Regions from separate parts of the Homo sapiens genome. Here region 1 is linked to region 2. Evidence: fine-mapped expression QTL. A gene starts in region 2. The other region holds a variant in brackets. All regions are shown on one strand. Distances are between the middles of the regions. Region 1 overlaps ZNF577 (zinc finger protein 577). Region 2 holds the start of ZNF577 (zinc finger protein 577).

Evidence for each region.
Region 1: its variant is fine-mapped to the expression of ZNF577 in fetal neocortex (Walker 2019, PIP 0.95). The same link has a PIP of 0.9 or more in prefrontal cortex.

What each region holds. Positions count from the first base shown.
Region 1 is chr19:51,855,362-51,867,567 of GRCh38, reverse strand. ZNF577 (zinc finger protein 577) reads left to right here. Exons shown (of 6, transcript NM_001370449.1): 6 at 1-520. It also overlaps the pseudogene VN1R98P and the pseudogene LOC100419706. Among named protein-coding and RNA genes, the nearest start is that of ZNF577, 26 kb to the left of the region's middle. The variant G/AG (reference allele first, on the strand shown) is at 6,455.
Region 2 is chr19:51,882,863-51,895,068 of GRCh38, reverse strand. It overlaps ZNF577 (zinc finger protein 577), which reads left to right and starts at 7,118. Exons shown (of 6, transcript NM_001370449.1): 1 at 7,118-8,248. ZNF649 (zinc finger protein 649) reads left to right here. Exons shown (of 5, transcript NM_023074.4): 5 at 3,172-5,834. The coding sequence ends at 4,451. It overlaps ZNF649-AS1 (ZNF649 antisense RNA 1), which reads right to left and starts at 7,044. Exons shown (of 3, transcript NR_110733.1): 1 at 6,943-7,044. RefSeq lists an enhancer at 6,994-7,845.

The DNA of each region.
Region 1 (12,206 bases), 28 kb after region 2:
CTCCTGACCTTGTGATCCGCCCACCTCAGCCTCCCAAAGTGCTGGGATTACAGGTGTGAGCCACCGCGCCTGGCCAGCTTTGTGTTTTTAAAAAGTTGTCCTTCATTAAGGGAGGGAAATTGAGTAATTGTCACAATTCTAAAAGCTGGGCCTCTCTCTGACATGTCTTCTTTTCTCTTGAAAAGAGATCTTTTGTCCGATGTTCAGAATCAGAAAAGACAATATCTAGATCATACCTTAGAAATGATATCCTTTTCCTAAGAACCGAAGAAAAAAACGATAAAAGCCCCGGTGAGGTTTTGCTTCTTTCTTTTGCCTTTCTTTCCAATGACTTTGCAAGGCTTAAGACAAATAACTATTAAATGGAAATACATACATTTGTAATTTAAAAATTTAAGGAAAACTAAACAGAAACCATAAAATCAAGATTCAGGTAAAGGTGGAATGAGGAAATGTAGCTTCATACAGAGTGCCTTAAGTGTGAATACAGGTGAATAAATATGTAAGAATGTATGATGTACTTAAGTTGTTTCTGATTCTTTCTTTTCTTTCTTCTTTCTTTCCTTCTTCCTTTTCTCTCTCTCTCTCTTTCTTTCTTCTTATCTCACTCTGTCACACAGGTTCAGTGGCACGATCATGGCTCACTGCAACCTCTGCCTCTTGGGTTCCAGTGATTCTCTTGCCCCAGCCTCCTGAGTAGCTGGGATTAAGGTGTGTGTCACCACGCCTGGCTAATTTTTGTATTTTTAGTAGAGATGGGATTTCACCATTTTGGCCAGGTTGGTCTCAAACTCCTGACCTCAGGTGATTTGCCCATCTCAGCCTCCCAAAGTGCTGGAATTATAGGCATGAGCCACCACAACTGGCCTGTTTCTGATGTTTCTGGTGTCAATAATGTATTAATTTTCTGTTGATGCCAAAACAGATTCTCACAAACGTTTAGCAGCTTGAAACAACACAAATTTATTGTCTCACAGTTCTTTAGGTCAGAAGTCTGGATTGGCTTGACTGGTTTCTTTGATCTGGGTTTCAAAGACTGAAGTCAAGGTGTGGGCCAACAGGGCTCTTATTGGAAGAATCTGGGAAGAATCCACTTCCAAGCTTATCCAGGGTATTGGCAGACTAATTCTGAGATTTGTTTCTTTGCTGGCTGTCAGCTGGGGGTGGTTCCTTATGTATTTATTTTACTTTTTTTTATTTTTAATTTTTATTTGAGACAGGTCTTGCTCTGTCACCCAGGTTGGAGTGCAGTGGTGCAATCTTGGCTCACTGCAGCCTCTGTCATAGTAGATGTTGAATCTGCCGAGCTGAAAGTGTGTCAGTTCCAGAAACATTTCTGTGCTGTTCATAGACACCTCCCATCAAGCCCAATTATAAGTGTTCAAGTCTTTGTCATTTCCCATAAACAGGCTCTTAAGCTACCAAACCAGATATCTTTAATTTTTTTTTTTTTTTAGATGGAGTCTTGCTCTGTCGCCAGGCTGGAGTGCAGTGGCGCCATCTCAGCTCACTGCAATCTCTGCCTCCCGAGTTCAAGCAATTCTCCTGCCTCAGCCTTCTGAGTAGCTGGGATTACATGCGTGTGCCACCACACCCAGCTAAGTTTTGTATTTTTAGTAGAGCTGGGGTTTTACCATGTTGGTCAGGATGGTCCCAATCTCCTGACCTCATGATCTGCCCGCCTCAGCCTCCCAAAGTGCTGGGATTACAAGTGTGAGCCACCGCACCCAGCCAGTGATATTTAATTTCAAACATGGAGAATAGAGGATAAAATGTGAGGTCAGTGCATTTCAGGTGAGTGAGAACCAACAAGATGGGAGACCTGGAAAGTAAAGGAGCTGACCATGAGGGTTGGACCCCTTCCAAATGTGTTTAACAGGGCAAAGACTTGGAAGGTGACTACAGATACCTAGATCATTGATGAGGCTCTCTTTTGTTTGGCGTTTCAAAGAAAATGTGCCTTTTTCTCTCTTTATATTGACTTAGATTCTCACAATCGACACATCATCACAGCACTGCCTTTTATCCTGGGGTAAGGATATTTGGCCTGATTTTTGTATTTCCTACAGACCTGAGTGAATCATATGAGAATGTATCAAAGCAACCTAGAAGGTGGGAGTGCTCACCACAGTGGTGTTCCTGTATATATGGTGTTAGAAATCTTTGGGAAGGCGCGGGCATGGTGGCTCACGTGTGTAATCCCAGCACTTTGGGAGGCCGAGGTGGGTGGATCACCTGAGGTCAGAAGTTCAAGACCAGCCTGGCCAACATGGCGAAACCCTGTCTCTACTAAAAATACAAAAATTAGCTGGGCATGGTGGCGAGTGCCCTGTAATCCCAGCTACTCCAGAGGTGCGGTTGGAGAATCACTTGAACCCTAGAGGCGAAGGTTGCAGTGAGCTGAGATTGCGCCATTGCACTCCAGCCTGGGTGACAAGAGCGAAACTCCGTCTCAAGAAAAAAAAAATCTTTGGGAAAGTTCATTGACTGTTGCATGCAGAATTAAAGAAGAATGAATCTGAAACAGAGTGACAGCACTTACATTTATGTGAAGAGCTGAGAAGACTTCATTTTATCTTGCTTCCCACAGATGTTGGTTCCTAAGACTTAAGTTGGCCTCTTTTCTGGGTACTTATTGTTTGAGCGTGATGGATGGACTTTTTCCATTCTCTGGGCATCTCCTTCTCCCAAAGCCTTCAGAGTTGGAGGGCGTAAGGGTGCTTCATCATTGGTAATTTCTTTTCTTTGTTCCCAGTGTGACCTCTTCGATTTCATGGACTTAACAATGCTATTTATATGTTGATGACTCACAGATTTCTCTCTACAGGCTAGATATTTCCTTATCCTCCTACATTTGCCTGGGAATTGCTTGGAGATCTAATAGCTAACTCAAACTTCAAGTCATCCTTGCTTCACCGTTTCACTCATCCCACAAATCCAGTCCATTTAGCAAGTTTAGACTTTACTTTCTCCTTATATCTCGAGGTCCTCTACTCCTTTCTCTAACAGTTATTTTCACTCAAGCTTCGATGTCCATTATCTCTTGCCAAAATTATGATAGTTTTCTCTAATATACTCTCAGTCCTTTACTCTTGTTTCTATTCTCCACATAATACCCTTAATGAATTTATTTTACTATTTTCATTTATGAAAATAAATGCGGGAGTCAGGGGCGGGAGTCAGGGGCAGGAGTCAGTGTTTCTAGCCCCTCACCTCCAAAATCCCTGAACATTAAAATAAACATCAGAAACATCTTGGTTCTTAAAAGACTTCAGATTTTGACAAAAGTGTTGCGGAAAGTAATTAAAGCTTCATATAAAAAGGTAAATCTTAGTTGGAGGATGGAAAGATCTAAATTATGGTCTAAAAAATGCTATATGATGTAGCAAATCTGTACTCATTCACAGGGTGCAAGCCTAAAAATATTCATGCCATAATATTTAAGACATGGTCAGTGTTAATTACTGATAAACATACACACAGGATGTTGCTTTTAAATTGGAAATCAGGACATGTCATCCTGCTCCCACTATCATTGGTAATGGCATCCTGTTACTGTTAGCACAAGATCCAAATTCTTTTCAGGATCCTCCTACAAGGGAGCATTCCCTGATTTCGGCCTAAACGTTTTTGTTTACTTATTAATGAAAAATGTTTTGGTATAACATACATATAATGTAATTATACAGCTAGGTAACTTTCTAGTCAGCACACTGTGCAACCAGCACCTAGATCAAGAATCTGAGTCCTGTGCAGAATGGCATTGGGTGAATATTACACTGTTTATCTCTTTTACATTCAGGCCATTATACTTAGTGTCCCTATGTATGTTTTCATCAATATCTTTATTTTTATTTTCTCCTTTTGAAAATGCTTGTCTCCAAATGGTCTAGATTTAATGAGATGTTCCAAAATGATACACAAAATTCTTGCACATTCTTTTTGCAAATTTCCCCAAAATATGATTTTACCAATTTGCTTTATTTTATCTATACACACACACCACACACAGGTACATATGGTTTTTCTGAACTCTACCCTAAAACCCAAGTGTGTATTTCATAGGAAGAAGAGCATTCTTTTGCATAATCAGAATACTGTGATCAAAATCAGAATATTGACATTGATATAGTATTATTATTTAAAATACAGAGCTTACTCAAATTTAACCATCTTACTAATATCTTTTTATGGTAAATGGGAAAAGAAGCCTTTTTCTGGACCTCTTCTTGTTATCTCACTTACTCTGTTGTGCGTACACTAGCTTTCATAACATCCAGAAGTCAGAGCTTGCTAATTATAACCAATTCTTTTTGGAAAGAAATCATATGGATGCAGTGAATGTGCAGTGAATACTTGTAAACTACTCATGACCATGCCTCAGAGAACTCATGCAGGAAACAAATCCCAGGAATCTCATGATTTTAGGAGAGCCCTTCCCAGTGAGTTAAAGCTCATTGCTCATCAGCAAACTCAAACAGGAGTGAGACCCTACTGATGCAATCAATGTCAAAAAGCCTTCATTACAAATTCAGGGCTTGTGTATCATCAGAAAACTCATCATAGAGAAGGGAAAGTCTGTACATGCAGCAAATGTGGAGAAGTTTTCCCTTGGAAGTCAGAACTCATTTTATGTCAAAGAAATCATTCAGGAGAGAGACCGTTCATTTGCAAAGTATGTGATAAAGGCTTTGTGGTTAGGACACATCTCACTGTACATCAGAGAGCTCACACAGGAGAGAAACCATATGCTTGCTCAGATTGTGAAAAAGCCTTCTCAAAAAAGGCTTTATTCATGATTCATCAGTGAATTCACACAGGAGAGATACCCTATTAATGCATTCAATGTCAAACAGCTTTGAAGACCAGATCTGAGCTCAGTTATCCTCAGAAAGTTCTTCATAGAAAAGGAAAATTCTATGGATGCAGTAAATGTGGGAAAGCTTTTCCTTGGAAGTCGAACCTCATTTTGCATCTCAGAACTCATTCAGGAGAGAGACCTTTCAGGTGCAAAGTCTATCATAAAGCCTTCATGGTTAGAACACAGCTAACTATACATCAGAGAACTCACACAGGAGAGAAACCATATGCTTGCTTGGATTATGAGAAAGCCTTCTTGAAAAAGGCTCAGCTTATGAAGCATCAGTGAATTCATACAGAAGAAAGACCCTATGGATGCAGTGAATGTCAAGAAGCTTTCATCTGGAAGTTGGATCTCAACAATCATAAGAAAACTCATCATGCAGTAAGGAAATCCCATGAATGCAGTGAATGTGGGAAGGTTTTATCCTCCAAAAAAAACTTTGTTATACATCAGAGAACCCATACAGGTGAGAAACCCTTCAAATGCAATGTATGTGATAAAGCCTTCACATCAAAGGGAAATCTCATTGTATATCAGAGAACTCATATAGGAAATAAATCATATGAATGCTCAGACTGTGATAGGGCCTTCTCCAGTAAGGTATATCTCATGACTCATCAGCCAATTCACACAGGAGAGAGACCCTATGATGCAATGAAGGTCAACAAGCTTTCACCCAAAAGACAGGTCTCAGTAAGCATCGAAAAACTTGCCATGCAAGAATGAAATCTTATGGATACAGTGGATGTGGGAAGGTTTTGTCCTGTAAGTCAACTCTCATTATATAACAGAGAACCTATACAGGTGAGAAACTCCTCAAATGTAGCATGTGTAATAAAGCCATCATAGTTAAATCCTGTCTCACTGTACATTAGAGAATTCATACAGGAGAGAAACCATATAAATGCAGTGATTGTAAGAAAGCATTCGCTACTTTGTAAACTCTCATTGGTCACCAGAGAACTCACACAGGAAAGAGGCCCTATAGATGCAGTGAATGTCAAAAAGCTTTACTCAGAAATCAGCTATTACTAATCATCAGAAACCCCAGCAGGAAGGAAGAAAGTCCATGCAGTGACTTGGAATATGAGAGAGCTTTTTTGATTAGTCACATCAGCTCAGACACAATAGAAGTTCCATGAATACTATGATTGTAATGGGCCCTTTTGGAACTCTTGTGGGAGAGAAACCTTATAGATGCAATGAATATTTTAAGCCTTCTTTTTTGAAGATATCCCTCGTTTACCGTAGAGATCTCACAAGAAGAATCATTGGCCAGGCGCATTGGCCCATGCCTGTTATCTCAGCACTTTGGGAGGCTGAAGCAGGCAGATCACTTGAGGTTGGGAGTTCGAGACCAGCCTGGCCAACATGATGAAACCCTGTCTCTACTAAAAATACAAAAAAAAAAAAAAACAAATAGCCAGGTGTGGTGTGCACACCTGTAATCCTAACTACTCAGGAGGCTGAGGCAGGAGAATCTCTTGAACCTAGGAGGTGGAGGTTGCAGTAAGCCGAGATTGCACCAGTGTACTCCAGCCTGGGTGACAGAGTGAGACTCTGTCTCAAAAAAAAAAAAAAAAAAAAAAA[G/AG]AGAGAGTCAATTATGAGTGCAGTGATTGTCAAAAAAGTTTATTAGAAAACTAGAAGCTTTCCATTTAGTAGGCAGCACCAGTGGATGTAATGAAAATGATAAATCATTCTCAAATTATATTTGTTACACATTAGGGTATTCATTCAGGAGAAGGACCCTACAGATGGAGGGAATGCAGGAAAGCTAAGAAGAATCACACCTCATTGCAGGTAAAAATTAAAATCTGAAAGTCAAAACTCTTTGAATATCTTGTTTACGAGAGAAATCTCATAGATACAGTGAATGTGATTGTGATAAAGTCTTCCCAGTTAATGTTTATCTTTCTTGTTATAGCAAACTCATACAAGAGGAAACCCCTATTAATATAGTAAATGTGGTAAAGCCTTCATGTAGATACCAAAGGTCACTAATTATATCAGCAAACTCATGTGGTAGATAGGTCCTTCTGAAACGGAATGTGGAAAGCTTTTGAAAGTGACATATACATCAGATACTTAAATCAGAAGGGAAAACGATAGAGTTAAACTTGGCCATTGGCCACAAAACCCATTGCATAGCAGGAAAGAATTGCAGTGATTGTCTAAAATTCTTTATTTAAAATTCAGAGCTGAATTGCCCCCTAACTCAGTTATCAGAAAGATCCTATTCTCGAAGGCAATAATATTTAGGTTCAATGCAGGTATAAAATCCTAATGGAGCCATATCTATTCTGCTTCAGCAGAGTCATACATTTACCTAAAAGCAATGGTTCTGGTCACAGGAAATAATTTCTGTGGAGGATTAGATAGCATTAAACATCACAAGCTTTTAAATATAGGAGCAGAATTTGCTCCATACAGAGATTTTATGAATGCAGTGAAAGTGGTAAAAGCATCAGTGATAAGTTATTTTTTATTTCATGGATTCACTTCTTCACATCCTACCATGTCTTAAATTGTGAAGCATCTTATGATCTGGAATGTCATAGTAATTGTCAGGGCTTTTTAAATGTGTGATGGCACTTTAGATTTGAGTAATTACCCTTGCCTGTATATATAATTTTATAATGGTTTTGCATAATTATTATAGAAAGGATTCCAGAGAATATTCTATAAATATTAGACATTTCATTGTCAAATATTCCTTTTGAATATATGAAAAATAAGAATATAATAAGGATTAGTCGAATAGTGACAAAGGATCTTAGGGGTTGTGTTGTGGACTGTACTATGTGACATGTACTTTATATATTTATAAACTTCATTGTTTACTTGGAATTACACGAAGAAACAATTTTCAGGGTTAAAGAAATTCTCAACATAAGACAAAATGTTGAATAATTCAATGTAGTGCAAATAAAATGTTTTTTTCTTATGAATCAAAATGTCTTGTAATACATATTTGACTCATTATTAAGGAGTCTAAAGGATTATACCACGTAAGTGTGAATTCCTTATTTTTGCTGTCATTTGTAGTATTTTTGCCCACTGTGATGATCCATCACAAGTAGAAGTTTACATTTTTCTAGAGCCTTATAACTCTGAAACATCCAAAGATTATAAAAGATTTACCTAAAATATTTAAAAACCAGCAACACATTAGAGTAATGGAAGAAAAAAGTGTGAGGTTATATGAGGTGAGTTTATGGCTATATATTTCAAGTTTGTGTCACACCGAAACTTTTGATTTGTTATGATAATATGCCATTCCTTTGGTGGTTCCTCAAAAAGTTAAATCCAGACTTACCATATGACCCAGGAATTCCATTCCTAAGTAAAATACCCATGAGAATTGAAAACAGGTACTCAACCAAATATTTGTCCATGAATGTTTATAGCACTGTTCACAATAGCCAAAATAGCATTTGGTTGAAAAAACTCAAATGCCTATCAAAGGATGAATAAATAAAATGTGCTACATGCATGTACACATGAATACATAAATGGTCAGTTATACAAATGAATGAAGTACTGATGACATGTTGCATGAATGAGCCCCAAAAAACATACTGAGTGAAAGAAGCCAAATGCAAATTCCACATTTTATACTTTCATTTATATCAAATACTCTGAATAGGTAAATCTATAGAGAAATAAAGCAAATTAGTGGTTATTGGGCACTAGAGGGGAAGGGAGAATGCAATCTATCTGCGTAGTATGTATGGGGTTTTCTTTTAGAATGATGAAAATGTTTTTGAACTAGATAGAGATGGTGGTTGCATAATATTGTGAATGTGCTAAACTTCACTGAATTGTACACTCTAAAATTGTTAATATTTGAATTTTTACATGAAGAAAAATATATTTAAAAAGAAAAATATTGCATGAACTCTGGCACTTCAAATATGGACTTTTTTTTAACAAAATGAGACTTACTTGACTGAATCTTCTATAAAACTTCTAGTGGGTATTCTAGTTATTAAAAAGCAAGGTTTTTTTTTACCTCCATGTGAAATAACTGACTTATTTTGGTTATCAGTGAAACCTATTGTTTTGCAAGGAATTCTGTAAAAATGTACCAGCAAAATCTTGCTTATTTTTTTCTCTAGATTTTTGCCCCTTCCCCATTTTGTTTGACAGTTGTCAAGAAATCTTTTCTTCACCATTTTATTATGAAAATCTTCAGACATAAAGATGTTTAAGGAGTACTAAACACTAATCTGGATTTGACCATTGCAACATTTTTCTGTGTGTGTTTGTGTGTGTCATATGTTCTGACAACCTCCTATTCACCCTGGTGCATGAGGGAGGGACTCCCTACCCTAAGTAGTATGGAATGGCTGAACACAACACCTGACACTGGCTAGATGAAATTGACAGCAGTTTATTAGTCACAGATACAGCCTGAGAGAAATGGTCATTGCATATAGGTATTGCACTCAGGAATAGAGTGAACAAGCACGGAGATTGTGGGAAGTAGGCTTTATATAATGAGAGGGTAACGTGCCCATGGTTTCTGTGGAAGAATGCAATTGCTTTGTATAATTCCATGGGCTGAATATAGATTGAGGACCATGTTGGGTGCAGCTAGTTCAGCTGATTGGGGAGTTAGCTGGGTGGGAGCCTTTCCTGTGCAGTGGGAGCATATCTGGTGAGAGTAAGGGAATTCAAAGATAGGCCTTCAGGGCCCTGTAAAGCTCAAAGACTAAAAGCAGGCCAGACACAATGGCCCGCACCTGTAATCCCAGCACTTTGGGATTACAGGTGGATCCTTTGGAGGATCCCTTGAGCCCAGGAGTTTGAGACCAGCCTGGGCAACGTAACGAGACTCCATCTCTACAAAAAATTTTAAAATAATAATCTTAGATTTGAAAGCAGCACATGAGATAATAGGTTCTTAGAGTTTTGTGTGTGTGCGTGTGTGTGTGTGTATGTGTACAGATATATATGTATCTGTATATTTCTGGTGAGCAGCCTGAAAGCTACAGTCACTTGCCACTTGAGCAGTTCTCAGGCAATCACCCACCCGAAGGCTGGTGGGTGGATGAGGTTCAAAGACAGAGCTTTGAAGAACATCGGTTTCTCCTGCTTTCTGTATTGGTTCTTCAACCTACAATAAAAATCTTTGTTCTTAAACATGTAGAGGCCCTTCGGCATATCCCCAATTCTACCAAGATATGAAATTGTGGTCTATGCTCTTCTAAAAATCCTGAAACATCTACTGCAAAATACACATTTCTTCTCCTTCCTTTCTTTGTTTTTTCTTTTCTTTCTTTCTTTCTTTCTTTCTTTCTTTCTTTCTTTCTTTCTTTCTTTCTTTCTTTCTTTCCTTCCTTCTTTCTTTCTCTCTTTCTTTCTCTCCTTTCTCCTTTTCTTTTCCTTCCTTTCTTTTCTTTTTTGATGGAGTCTCGCTTTGTCGCCAGGCTGAAATGCGGTGGCACGATATCGGTTCACTGCAGCCTCCGCCTCCCGGGTTCAAGCGATTCTCCTGCCTCAGCCTCCTGAACAGCTGGGACTACAGGCGTGCGCCATCACACCCAGATAATTTTTGTATTTTTAGTAGAGATGGGGTTTCACCATGTTGGCCAGGATAGTCTCGATCTCTTGACCTCATGTTCCGCCTGCCTCGGCCTCCCAAAGTGCTGAGATTACACAAAATACACATTTCTCTTGACTTTCCCAGATGTTGTCTTCATGGACTCATGGTTGGAGCTGGTGTCTACATGGTAGAGTGAGGCGCATTCACACCCTCAGCAGCTCCTACAGATTCTCCCCTGAGGCAAAAGCCATTCAAATCATGCTGCTTCTAGGAAGTACTTTCATTTCGTTTTACTTTATCAGTTCTATCCTGCTCATTCATAATGCTGTTCTTTTCCAATCAAGCCTCTGGCTGCAATATACTACCACCTTTCATGCAGTATATTATCCCTCCCTCAGCCCCCCGATCTTGATGTTCAAGGTCCCCGAGCACCAAGTTTCTCGTCTTAAATGGTGAAAAAAAATCCAAAATTACTGATGGTCCTGTTCACAACAGTGTCTCTTCTTCAGAGAATCTGGTTATTCACTTAAGAAAGCAAGGGTATGTGGATGTCTAGAATATGACAGACATACACCCAAAATACGGATAATTAAAGGATTTGTATGACATTGACTTAGCGATGTAGAGGCTTTACTCTTTACTCAGAAGGCAGGCATACAACCAAATAAACACAAAACTGTCTGTTAGCATTATCCTGATGTTCTCTGTATTTTTTCTTTGAGATACTTGATGGAAGCATGGAGGTGAGGTTGGGTAGAAATAATCTGGGGACATATTCGAATTTTTAACAGTTCATTAGCACAATTATTAAATTGGTGCAGTATTATATATTGATAAACAGTAATGGCTTTGTGTATCAACTGTATAACCCATGGTAAACCATTTAATCATTAGAAGACTTAGGGTATTTACTTGTAAAGTTAATAAATTTTTATCCCAGAGATTACTGTGCAAAAAATAAATTATGTGATAAGGCATGATGTCCAGAATAGCAGAGACAAGGCCTCTGCGTATCCATCCTTTCATTAAAACAACATAAACATCATCACAGTCAATTTTGGAAAATAACCAAAGGCTTACAATATTTTGAACAGCATTTTCTTTTCAAGAAAAAAATTTTGAACCTCATTAAAAATAGTGGGGTATGTGGAATTTTAATTTGGCCTACTTCTATATCCCTTTCCCCAGATCTGCATTACCGTTGGAAAACAGCAGCCTCAGAACCACAGTAGCCATGAAGACCATCAGCCTTCAACCACCACCCTTGTATCAGAGGAGACAAATAAGCTTGGAAATCCTCAAAAAGCCTCATCCTCAGAGCAATGTCATTATATATCTTGTCTTACAGCTCCATGATGTGGTTCCATTCTTTGTCCTAACTCATTCTCTCACCTGACTCAAAGCTCACTTTGAAGGAAAAGTGCGATACTAGGGCACTGGTCAAAAACGATCAGCTTCAATTGTTTAACTTTGTAGTAGCCTAAGCCTGCAGTACCGTTAGGGAGCAAACAAGAGCTCTGAAAAATTGTTAAACGGACATCTGAAGAACAAGATGTTAATAGGGAACTCTTAAATACTCTGACATATTCCTGAGGATCTAGAAGGCCCAACACATACACAGGGATGTGTGCATGCCCATGAGATACCTGAGGGTACCAGTAGTTCACTTCTAGCTGATCTTGAAGCCCTTGAGAAGAAGGAAGAGAAGGCTAAAGTAGACTTACAAACTGCTTGAGCATTGAAGTAGACACACACACACACACACACACACACACACACACACACACAGCACCC
Region 2 (12,206 bases):
CATGTAAGATTGAAATACATCTTGGTCATTCATGCATTTCTTCATCGAAGGACAGATTAGCCAGGCTGAAGAGAGGTCATACTTTTCCATCTATTAAGCATTTCTTAAAGGCTAGATCTTTATTAAAGGAGTTTTCATGACACTGTCCATACCAAGGCCTCTTGCTCTGTGAGTCTGGTTTTGTTAGAATTGAGTTGGGGGCCTGGGCGTGTCTTTACATGAAGCTCTCTCGGGGGCTGTTTTTATGAGTTGATGAACTGTAGCCATAATACACAGTAGAAGAGACTGAATTTAGTGAGAAACAGAAATGTCTTTCTTGAGCAAAGATTTTGTTAGCAAAAATAGGGCAAATTTTTATGTAATATTTACAAATTAAACTTTTGAACGTGTGAAATGTTTTTGTTACAATTCAGGGCTATACAAAGTTAAAGTGAATAGTAAATACAGAAAGAATTGTAGGACTTTAGAAGAAATGTAACCTACAGTGGTCTAGACAAGATGGAGAAAGACAGACTGATAAAATATCTTATGCAAGAGACATAGCTAGGTATTGAATTAAGATGAAGACATATGACAAGAAGTTGTAGAACTGGAAATGCAAGGCCATGTGGGGACTGTCAGAAGATTAGCCTGAAGGCCGGGTGCGGTGGCTCATGCCTGTAATCCCAGCACTTTGGGAGGCCGAGTTGGGCAGATCACCTGAGGTCAGGAGTTTGAGACCAGTCTGGCCAATGTGGTGAAACCCTGTCTCTACATAAAATACAAAAAATTAGCCAGGCGTGGTGGCACGTGCCTGTCATCCCAGCTGCTCGGGAGACTGAGGCAGGAGAATTGCTTGAACCTGGGAGGCGGAGGTTGAAGTGAGCCAAGATCGTGCCACTGTACTCCAGCCTGGGTGACAGAGCAAGACTCCATCTCAAAAAAAAAGAAAAAAAAAAGATTAGCTTGAAACTGGTCACATGGAGGCCACAGTTAGAAGATATTTGCTGGGAAATGGTGAAGTGGGAACTTAAAGTGGATGCGTCATGGTAATGGTAAAACTTTTATTGTTCAGCTCCTGCTGTGAATTTTCTGTGCCAGTAATTCAGGGTAGTGGTGGAGGTAAAGTTTTGTATTTTTCTAGCTCTAGGTAGAGCTTACCTTTCACCTGGTGGCAGTACTATAGCAATCATACTGTATAGCTGATGTTCTAAGAAAAACTAAAAGTAAAGCTGCCTCAAGTCTTGATTCAGAAGTAGGGAGGTGGTCCTTGAGGGCTCCATTCACCGATGCCAACAGAGACATAAGTACAAAATTCAGAGAGTAGAGGCTGTTAGTGGCAAGGTGAGGAATTAGTATATTAGGGACAGCAAAGTGGAAAAAAAATCCAATATGACATCTGTGCAAGTAGGGCATGATGAAGAAGGTGACAGTTTCCATATTTGGTGCAGTGGCAGAGCTGTGTGGAGAGGACCACGTGTTCTGCTTGCATGTTCTGAAAGTCCATAGGGATCACCCTGTTTCTCTTTCTGTTGGAACATATGAGAATATATCATAGCCAGGTAGATACAAGGTGTTAACCAAAAAATTGAGGAGGCAAAGAGAAACTTTATATTCTAACAAAAGATGATTCGCAGATCTGAGTGGTGTGACTTTGAGGAAGTGGAAAAAACACACATCACTGAAGAGGGGAAACTTTTTTTTTTTTGCCTTGCAGGAGGCTTTTTGCCTTCTAGGATTTGCTTTGCATACCTATTCAGTGAGAGATGGGGAGTCTTATGAATATCTTTATGAGAATCAGCAAACATGTGCATAGTGAGCAAACATATATGTAACATATAATCCACTTTCATTTTGGAGTGGAGTTTTAACATTAAAATGAGGTGGAATTTGACTGTATGCTAGCAGGTCTTTTACAGGATATAAGAAAAGTCTGCACAGACTCCGGCAGCTGACCAAAACAGCTGGTGTTTATCAGGAGAAGGATATTGAGATCAGTCTCCTGTCCAATCATAGCTGCAGTTATGGCCTGTGGAATGCTGTTGGGGGTGAGGGGCATCAGTTAGTCAGCATCTGGTGGTCCGGGAGCTGCAATTGTTTCAATATTGCTTGTCCCAAGGCCAGTGTTTGTTTAGCTGCTACAGAAAAAGAAACAAAACAAAACAAAACAAAAAACACTCGTGGCAGTTAGAACATAGTTTATTCTTTAAATGTAGGGGGTGTGTGACTTAACCCTTACCTGTATGTCCTTAGACCTAGTTTATAGTTTGGTATCTTATTGCTACAAAGAGTCTGTTCCATCAGTCTTGTGATCTCTGTTTTAACAAAGGTTAGAGTATTGACTGCAGTTTTCCTGGAAATATGAGATTGGTGCTCTAGGAAAGTTAGCGTGATGATGGTCTACAGAATGGAGAAGGGCATATTTTAGCACCCAACAGTCTAATAGGATTAGGATGAAGTCAAAGGCTGTGTATCCAACATTCTAACTTGCCTTTCTGGGATATTTATTCTACTACCTATGTCTGCTGTTTCCCTACTCAGGATTATTCTTTTTTAAATTAAAAAAAAAGTTTTTGTAGAGACAGTCTCCCTATTGTAGCCCAGGCTGGTCTCAAACTCCTGGGCTCAAGTGATCTTCCCACCTCACCCTCCCAAAGTGCTGGGATTACAGGCATGAGCCACTGTGCCTGGCTGGCAAATTTTTTTTTTTTTTTTGAGATGGAGTCTTGCTCTGTTGGCAGACTGGAGTGCAGTGGAGCGATCTTGGCTTGCTACAACCTCTGTCTCCCAGGTTCAAGCGATTTTCCTGCCTCAACCTCCTGAGTAGCTGGGACTACAGGCACGTGCCACCACGCCCAGCCAATTTTTTTGTATTTTTAGTAGAGATGGGGTTTCACCATGTTGGCCAGGATGGTCTTGATCTCTTGACCTTGTGATCCACCCGCCTTGGCCTCTCAAAGTGCTGGGATTACAGGCATAAGCCACCGCACCCAGCTGGCAAATTTTATCTTATATGTATTTAACTACAATTCTTAAAAGTTTTTTTAACAGATAGGGAACACTTATACTTGGAATTCCTTCCATGTTGGTATTATAGGGGTTCCAGTAAAAAGCCAGCCAACCCCAAGGCATCTTTGAAGCAGTTTTATTCCGTGTGATGATCATGGAAGGATTTATTGTTCTCTCTCTTAGAAATTGAGAAAGCTGATGATCATCTGCAGCAGCCCTTGCAAAACCAAAAAATACTGAAGAGGACGGGACAACGCTATGAACACGGAAGAACTTTGAAATCATATTTAGGTTTAACCAACCAGAGCAGAAGATACAACAGAAAGGAGCCTGCTGAGTTTAATGGAGATGGAGCTTTTCTCCATGATAATCATGAACAAATGCCTACGGAAATTGAATTCCCTGAAAGTAGAAAACCCATCAGCACCAAGTCACAATTCCTTAAACATCAGCAAACACACAACATAGAGAAAGCCCATGAATGCACTGACTGTGGGAAAGCTTTCCTCAAGAAGTCTCAGCTCACTGAGCATAAGAGAATTCATACAGGAAAGAAACCCCACGTGTGTAGCTTGTGTGGGAAAGCCTTCTACAAGAAGTACAGGCTCACTGAACACGAGAGAGCTCACAGAGGAGAGAAACCCCACGGGTGTAGCTTGTGTGGGAAAGCCTTCTACAAGAGGTACAGGCTCACTGAACACGAGAGAGCTCACAAAGGAGAGAAACCATACGGGTGCAGTGAATGTGGGAAAGCCTTCCCCAGGAAATCTGAGCTTACTGAACATCAAAGGATTCACACGGGAATTAAGCCCCATCAATGCAGCGAATGTGGGAGAGCTTTCTCCAGAAAATCACTACTCGTTGTACATCAGCGAACTCATACAGGAGAGAAGCCTCATACATGCAGTGAATGTGGAAAAGGCTTCATTCAGAAGGGCAATCTCAACATACATCAACGAACTCACACTGGAGAGAAACCTTATGGATGCATTGACTGTGGCAAGGCCTTCAGCCAGAAGTCTTGCCTTGTAGCACATCAGAGATATCATACAGGAAAGACTCCCTTTGTATGTCCTGAATGTGGGCAACCCTGTTCACAGAAGTCAGGACTCATTAGACATCAGAAAATTCACTCAGGAGAGAAACCCTATAAATGCAGTGACTGTGGGAAAGCCTTCCTTACAAAGACAATGCTCATTGTACATCACAGAACTCACACGGGAGAGAGACCCTATGGCTGTGATGAGTGTGAGAAAGCTTACTTCTATATGTCTTGCCTTGTTAAACATAAGAGAATACACTCAAGGGAGAAACGGGGGGATTCAGTGAAGGTGGAAAATCCTTCCACAGCAAGTCACAGCTTAAGTCCTAGTGAACATGTGCAGGGGAAAAGCCCTGTTAATATGGTAACTGTGGCAATGGTGGCAGGGCAGTGTGAGTTTGCCCACATCCTGCATTCATGATAAACAGTTTGCTGTTTGATCATATAGCCTCCAGCGGAATGCTGAGTTTGTCATGTCCCATGGGCCTTTGGCTCCCTGCACTAATATGTATAGTAGGGTTTACAAGATATGAAATATATTTTACTTTTTTATATCTTATAAACCTCACTACCCCTCCCACAATATTGTTTTTCATTTACTATCTTGATCATAGAGTTTGGCTGGGGAGGGGGGCAGTTTTAGAGGCTTCCACTTGGTGTTCCTCAGAATGATATCTCTTACTCCGGGGGCCAAGGTAGGGGTTAGCTTTTGTTCTCTTTGTAGTTTAGATTGTATCTCTTGCCTTGTTCAAGTTCACAAATCTTTTTGTGTATACACATATGTACATGAAAATGATGTTCATGCTTTTTATTATTTTACCCTTCATTATTTCATTTTTTATAGTTCTCATAGCTATGTCTTTCAGTTCACTAATCTTTTTTCCACAGTGTTTAATCTGTCATTAATCCCATCCAAAGTATGTTTTCTCTCAGAAATTGTAATTTTTAACCTCTAATAATTTGACATGGGTTTTTCCCTGTTATATCTTTCATATCTTTATTTATCATGGTTTTACTTTTAACCTATTTATGCTTTCATATTTAAAGTGGGTGTTTAGTGGGCAACATACAGTTGGGCCTTCCTTTTTTATCCAGTTAACAATCTCTGTCTTTTTACTGGGGTATTTAGATCATTTACGTTCAATGTATTGATGTTTTTAGGTTTAAATTACTAACTTACTATTTGTTGTTTATTCTATGTCTTCTTTGTTCTCCTTTTCTTCTTTTTCTGCTTTCCCTTAGAGTAGCTGAGTGTGTTTATATTACATATTGTCTCCTTTGTTGGCTTATTAACTGTAAATCCTTGTCATTTGATTCCTTGAGATTTTATAGCATACATCATTGTGAGGGATTGCATATTTATGTCCTCTCCAAATTTACATGTTGAAGTCCTAATCCCTAAGGGATGGCATTAGGAAGTGTGACCTTTGGAAGGTAATTACATCTTGAAAGTGGAACCCTCATGATGAGATTATGTGTCTTATGAGACAACACAGAAGAGAGTTTGTTTTCTCTTTCTCTGCTCTTTGCCATGTGAAGACAGAATGAGATGACCATGCATAAACCAGGAAATGGACTCTCACTGGACACTAGACCTGCCAACACCTTGATTGTGTTTTAGAGTCCAGTTCTAGAGACTCCTCAGCCTCTGGAACGTGAGAAATGAATGTTTGTTAAGGCAGTCAGTCAGTCTATGGTGTATTTTTTCTAGTAGCCTGAACTGACTGAAAGAAAATCATGAACTTATCATTCTAACTTCAAGGACATTATATCACTTACTGTATAATAAAATAATCTTACAGTAGTATATCTCTATTTCCTGTGACCAGATCAGTGTCAGTGAAGAGATTGTCTTCTAGATGCTACTGGAATACATATTTGAGGTATGGGTAATCTTGATTTTACATGATAAATTCATTCTAGCATTCCAAACTCCATTTATCTTTGGGTACTTTATAATATATGAGGAAATTTCTGGCATTTAAACTTCATTTAGTGTAGGCAAATTTTGAGTCCAAGTTTCAGTCAACCAGCCAAGTCAACAGTTAGCACCACTCAATTTAGCTCACACACTGAAATTGCCAGTAGAATGTAATCTCCATGAATGAGAGTCTTTGTGCCTGAATTTCCAACTGTTGTATTCCCAGCACGCACAACAGTGTTTGACACATTAGGCATTTTATAAACATTCGCTGGATAAATGAGTGAATGATCAATCCCTTTAAAGGTTCTCTGAGGCTGGTTATAAAATTATAGGGAGCAGGTTTGGTGCTAGAATTCATCAGTTAATTGATCAGCTGAGTTTCAGTATTGAACAGAATCATCTCCCCTTCAGAGTTTTGATTTCAAGTTGCTCCCACCTTCCTGGATGTAAAGGCTTGTTCTGCCTTTGGCTTTTCCAGGGTGAGAGAGCCCTGTTTTCGTGTTGGTTCCCCACTTTGTCAACTGCTGATCAACTGTGTTCTCCATTCTCCACACCAATTATAACCAAAGCTTTAACACGCGGTTGTTTTATCCATTCTATGACTGACTCCTTCCTCTGAGGCTACATCTGATGTAGATGTAAAGATACTTCTTAGGCAGTTCTCAAAGGCTGCTTTCTCCAGCCAGATGCATCCTCAGGAGTAATAACCCCTCCGATTGTTGCTCAGGTCCCTCCCTCTTGAAATTCCTGTAAGACTGCCGCGCCACATGGTTTCTTTCCATTCTTCTTAGGATCAAAGTGCCTAAATGTCTGTGACCATCTCTACCCATCCTGTAGACAGATCAGGGCAGGCTTGAGCCTTTGAGAAACTAAGCAGTTTATGTAGCGCCCCTGGCTAATGTTGCAAAGCCAAGATCTAGCAGTTCACGTGGACTGGAAAAAGGGTGAAATGGGTCGTTTTCAATTGCTTTTCATCGTCAGAACCTACCTGTCTTAAGGCGCGAAAAGAGGGACTCCGCCTGCTCTACGGCAGTAGGGTTGAAAATGGCTGCTCCCAGCAAGCGTCCCCTGGGCGCAGACATATTGCATCATAAAGGGACGGCTGGTGCCGTATTCCGTGTCTCCGGAAAGACGCAGTATGGCCCTCGCCGGCCGCCATCCCCGAAACTTGCGAGTGTCGCGTCTGCAGTGTGTGGGGTTCGCGGGGCGGCGGGTAGAGGCGAGTGTTTAGAGACTTCGGGTCCCTGACTCGCCTCCAGCAGTGGAGACAGGTCATCGGTCTGGTCTGCGTGGGCTTCTGGGAATGTTTCAGGGGCAGGGAGAGCGCGCTTTTTTTTTTCTGTTGTTCGCTAGCGCGTGAGGTCCGTGTTGCGGGGAGCTCTCGGGGAGTCCTCGCTCGGAGTTCGTTTCGCAGTCGTGTTGGAGTTCCCAGAGTCTGGGAGCCCATGGTCTCCGCATTGGAACCAGTGCTTGGGAGGTCTTCGTTGCACAGTAGCGCTAGGGCGTCGTGGTGGGGAAGCGAATCGTGTCAGTGTTGGAGACTGCTCTGGGCAGTTCGTGTTCATTGCTTATCACATGCGTACTTAAAAAGGGGTCTGCTGGTCCCCTTGCTTCCCTGCTGCTGTATATTCTGTAGAAAATGGGTTTTCAGGTTCATTGCGACCCAAGTAATAACATCCCCATCATTTTAAATACTCCTCCAGAAAATAACTCTGGTTTAGTGTATTTCATGTTTAATGTTGGGATCAGGTGTCTAGGTATTGGTATAATTTTATTCGTCTTTAATAACATCTTGTCAACTTCGTATTCCCATATTACATGCTCTTTGAGAGTTTTTTAAATTGCTGCAGTTTCATCAAGTGGTTGCTTTAATTTGGGTAGAATTGATGTAGATCTAGATACAACACTTTCAGGAACATGTGATGGATTTCTATTAACCCAATATTTTTATTTGTTTGACTATCTGTAGTGTTTTTCCATACGTATCTTGGACATTTCTGGTTATGCTTATTTCTACATAGTTAATACTTTTTGTTGTAAATCGTGACTTTTTTTTTGCATAAGACCCCTCCCCCTTTCCTTTTTTGTTCCTAATTTTACTTAGTTGACAAGAACAGAAGTTAAAAATATATATGTTTATTCTGTCACTTCATTGTACTCATGTCATTACATATAACTTATAAATTGACGTCTTTTTTCTAGTTGAGCATTTTTGTCATCTGCAAATAATTTTAGCCAGGTGGCAAGTGTATGGACTGTGGAGTAAGAAGTACCTGCCTCTGCCTCTGACTTGGGTACGTTAATCTCTGAGTCAGTTTCCTTATTTGTGGAAAAAAGCTGTCATAGTTTCTTTTTCATGGAATCATTATGAAGATTAAGTGAGCAAATGTTCTTTAAGTATGTTCAAAGTGTAGTACTAGGTACGTAGTATGGTCTGAATAAATAATTACTGTGATTTATCAAGTTTTTATTTCTCTTTCCTAAGGGCTTTTGACCATTACAATTATTTTCATTTATTTTTTTCTCTTTAAAATTTTCTTTGATTTGTGTTGCTCTATTTCCCAATTTCATGTATTCCTGAGGGAATAAACCATACTTGTCAATAATGGTTTGTTCTTTTAATATGAGACTGGATTTTATTTGCTAAAATTTTATTTAATATTTTTGCATCAAAAAATGAAAAGATATCTTGGATTAGCTTCGGAATAATCCATAATCCATTGCTGGAGAGGGACTGAATGGTGGTATAGATAAAACAAAATTAGATGTGAGTTCGTCATTCTTGAAGTCACATGATGAATATGTGGAATTTGAGTATACTGTTCTTTTGCTTGAAATTTTTCATAGTAGAAAGTTAAAAAATTTTTTTGCCTATACATTTATAAGAGAAATTGGTCTCTTAAGTTTTTTTCAAGTGATTATACTTGAAAATCACCAGGTTAAAAAAATAGAATAATGTAGCATCCCAGAAGCCCTCATCTTCTCTCTCCTCTCCAAAGGTAATTATTATCTTAAAAACATCATAGATGTGCTTGGTTGTCATCTTTATATAAATGAAATCCTAAGGTACACATTCTTTTGTGGCTGGCTTCTTTTGCTTAATATTTTTGTTGTGAAAATCATCTAAGTTGCTGCATATAGCAGTAGCTCGTTTCTTTTTCATTACTGTGTAGTATTCCATTGATGATTATACCCCATATTATCCATTCCACTATCAAGAGACATTGTTATGGCTTATGGGAGTTATGAGTATTGTTGATATGAACGTTTTTCTACATGTCTTTTGGTGCATAAAAGTTCTATTGAGGGCTGGGCATGAGAGCTCACGCCTGTAATCCCAGCACTTTGGGAGGCTGAGGCGGATAGATCACCTGAGATCAGGAGTTCGAGACATCTGGCCAACATGATGAAACCCCATCCCTACTAAATACAAAAATTAGCAGGGCGTGGTAGCGGGTGTCTGTAATCCCAGCTACTCAGGAGGATGAGACAGGAGAATCACTTGAACCCAGGAGACAGAAGTTGCAGTGAGCTGGGATCATGCCATTGCACTCCAGCCTAGGCAACAAGAATGAAACTCCATCTCAAAAAAAAGTCAATAGAGCATATACTTAGTGTGTTAAGTATAGAGGAATGGAGTATGCTAGACACAAGGAGAAACCGCAAATGCCCAATCATAATGGGAAATTCTTAACATACTTCTCTCAGTAACTGAGAGAACAGGCAGACAAAAAGCTAAAAGGGTATAGATTAACCATTGCTGGCAAACTTTCTGTAAAGGTGCAGACAGATGACAAATATTTTAGTCTCTGCCGGCTAAATGGTCTTGTCTGCATCTACTAGGTTCTGCAATTATAGAATGAAAGTAGCTGTACAGAATGTGTAAACAAATGGGTGTGGCTGTGTTCTGATAAAACATTATTTACAAAAACATTCAGCTAACCCACAATAGTCCCAACCCCTGAAAGGTTAGAATGACATACCTAATTAACAAACTTGACCAATATAAAACACTGCACTCAATAATTTTCCTCAGATGCACATAGGACATTTATAAAAAGTCACCGTATGGTTGGCCATCAGGCAAGTCTAAATACATTTCAAATGATTAAAACCATATAGAATATTTTCTCTAACTATAGTGGAATTAAGCTATAAATCAATATCAAAATGATTTATTCACCATAGAATAGTCATGTGACTTTTTGGAACTATCAATTCAGAACATGCTGTTTTCTTGTCAGAATGATTGTTAATTATGCCATACGCTTCTAAATAATCTGAGTTCAAAAAATCACAGTGGAAATATTTTCAATTGCATTTTAATAAGAATTCTACATGTAAACCCTTGTTGAATTTAACCTAAGCAGTCAGTGGAGGAAATTTATAACCTTGAATGCAAGTATTAGAAAAGAAGGAAGGATGAAAATCAATGGAAAAGCACCTATCTCTATAATTCTTTTTTTTTTTATTCTATTGATTTGTGTTTGGAAATGCTGGTTTTATATAATTGTTAGAGAGGCTTCACTTTTTCTGTGATTGATGAATGTTACATAATATTGGAGTCATCTCTGTACTGTAAAGATTAGATAGAACTCATCAGGCTCTGATGACTCTAACTTTTTTTCATGGAAATTGAGTATAATATTTACCCATAACTTAGCTTCAATGGTTATCAATTCATATTCATCTGTCATATCAGTCATATTTATCTGTGCCTCCACTTTTGTTTTAGTCTGGAGACTTTCATAGCAAATCCAAGGCTTCATGCCTTGAAACTTGTACGTATCCCAGTATGAATCTCTAACCAGTAAGGTCATTAAAAAAATTTATAACCACTAGACCATTTCCTTTTTGTTTTTTCTTTTACAGACAGGATCTTGCTATGTTGCCCAGGCTGGTCTTGAACTCCTGGGCTCAAGCAGTCCTTCTGCCTCGGCTTCCCAAAGTGCTAGGATTACGGGTGTGAGCCACTTCACCCATCCTAGACCATTTTCAGTGTATCCAAGTTAATAATAATTTCTTTCCTTATCTTTTTGGGTGAGTGGACTCTCACTCTGTCACCGAGGCCGGACTGCAGTGGCGTTATCTTGGCTCACTGCAATTCCCACTTCCCAGGTTGAAGCAGTTCTCCTGCCTCAGCCTCCCGAGTAGCTGGGCTTACAGGCATCTGCCACCACACCAGGCTAATTTTTGTATTTTTTTGTAGAGATGGGGTTTCTTCCTGTTGGCCAGGCTGGTCTTGAACTCTTGACCTCAAGTGATCTGCCCATGTCGGCCTCCCAAAGTACTGGGGTTACAGGTGTGAGCCACTGTGCCCAGCCTATTTCTTTAGTTCATTGAATAGTTAGTCCACATTCAGTTTTTTTCTGATCATCTCATCATTGTCTTTTAACATTGGATTGTTTGAATCATGATCCAAATGATGTGGGTGCATTCGATTTGCTTGTTGTATCTCTTAGATCTCTTTAATTCTATAACAGCTCCCCCTTTTTTTTTCTTTGTTTTTTTTGCCCTCATGCCTCTTCATATGTTGCAGTAGGAAGTACACAGCACCATCCATGAAGGATTCTTACCTAAAAAAATTGAACATGGGACTAATCAAACCTCTAAGTTGAACTACTCACTTAATTAAAAGGAAAAACTGGGAGTTGGGTAGGTAGAGAACAACAAGTTAAACTATACCATGAGGCTGGGAGCAGTCGCTCATGCCTGTAATCCTAGCACTTTGGGAGGCTGAGGTGGGAGGATTGCTTGAGGCCAAGAGTTCAAGACCAACCTGGCCAACATAGCGAGACCTTGTCTCTATAAAAAAAAAAAATTTGGCCAGGCACAGTAGCTCACACCTGTAATCCCAGCACTTTGGGAGGCTGAGGCAGGTGGATCACAAGGTCAGGAGTTCAAGACCAGCCTGGCAAAGATGGTGAAGCCTCGTCTTTACTACAAATACAAAAATTAGCCGGGCGTGGTGGTGGGCACCTGTAATCCCAACTACTCAGGAGGCTGAGGCAGAGAATTGCTTGAACCCGGGAGGTGGAGGTTGCAGTGAGCTGAGATCGCGCTACTGCACTCTAGCCTGGCGACAGATTGAGACTCCTTCTCAAAAAAAAAAAAAAAAAAATTTTTTTTAAAAAGCCCACACAAAATGATACCCTGATACAGCAGTCAGCCATATCCAAAGGTAGGACATCATATGGGAGAAATCACCTGTTTCCTTCCTCCCTGCTTCATTCCTCCCAAAAGCAGATAAGG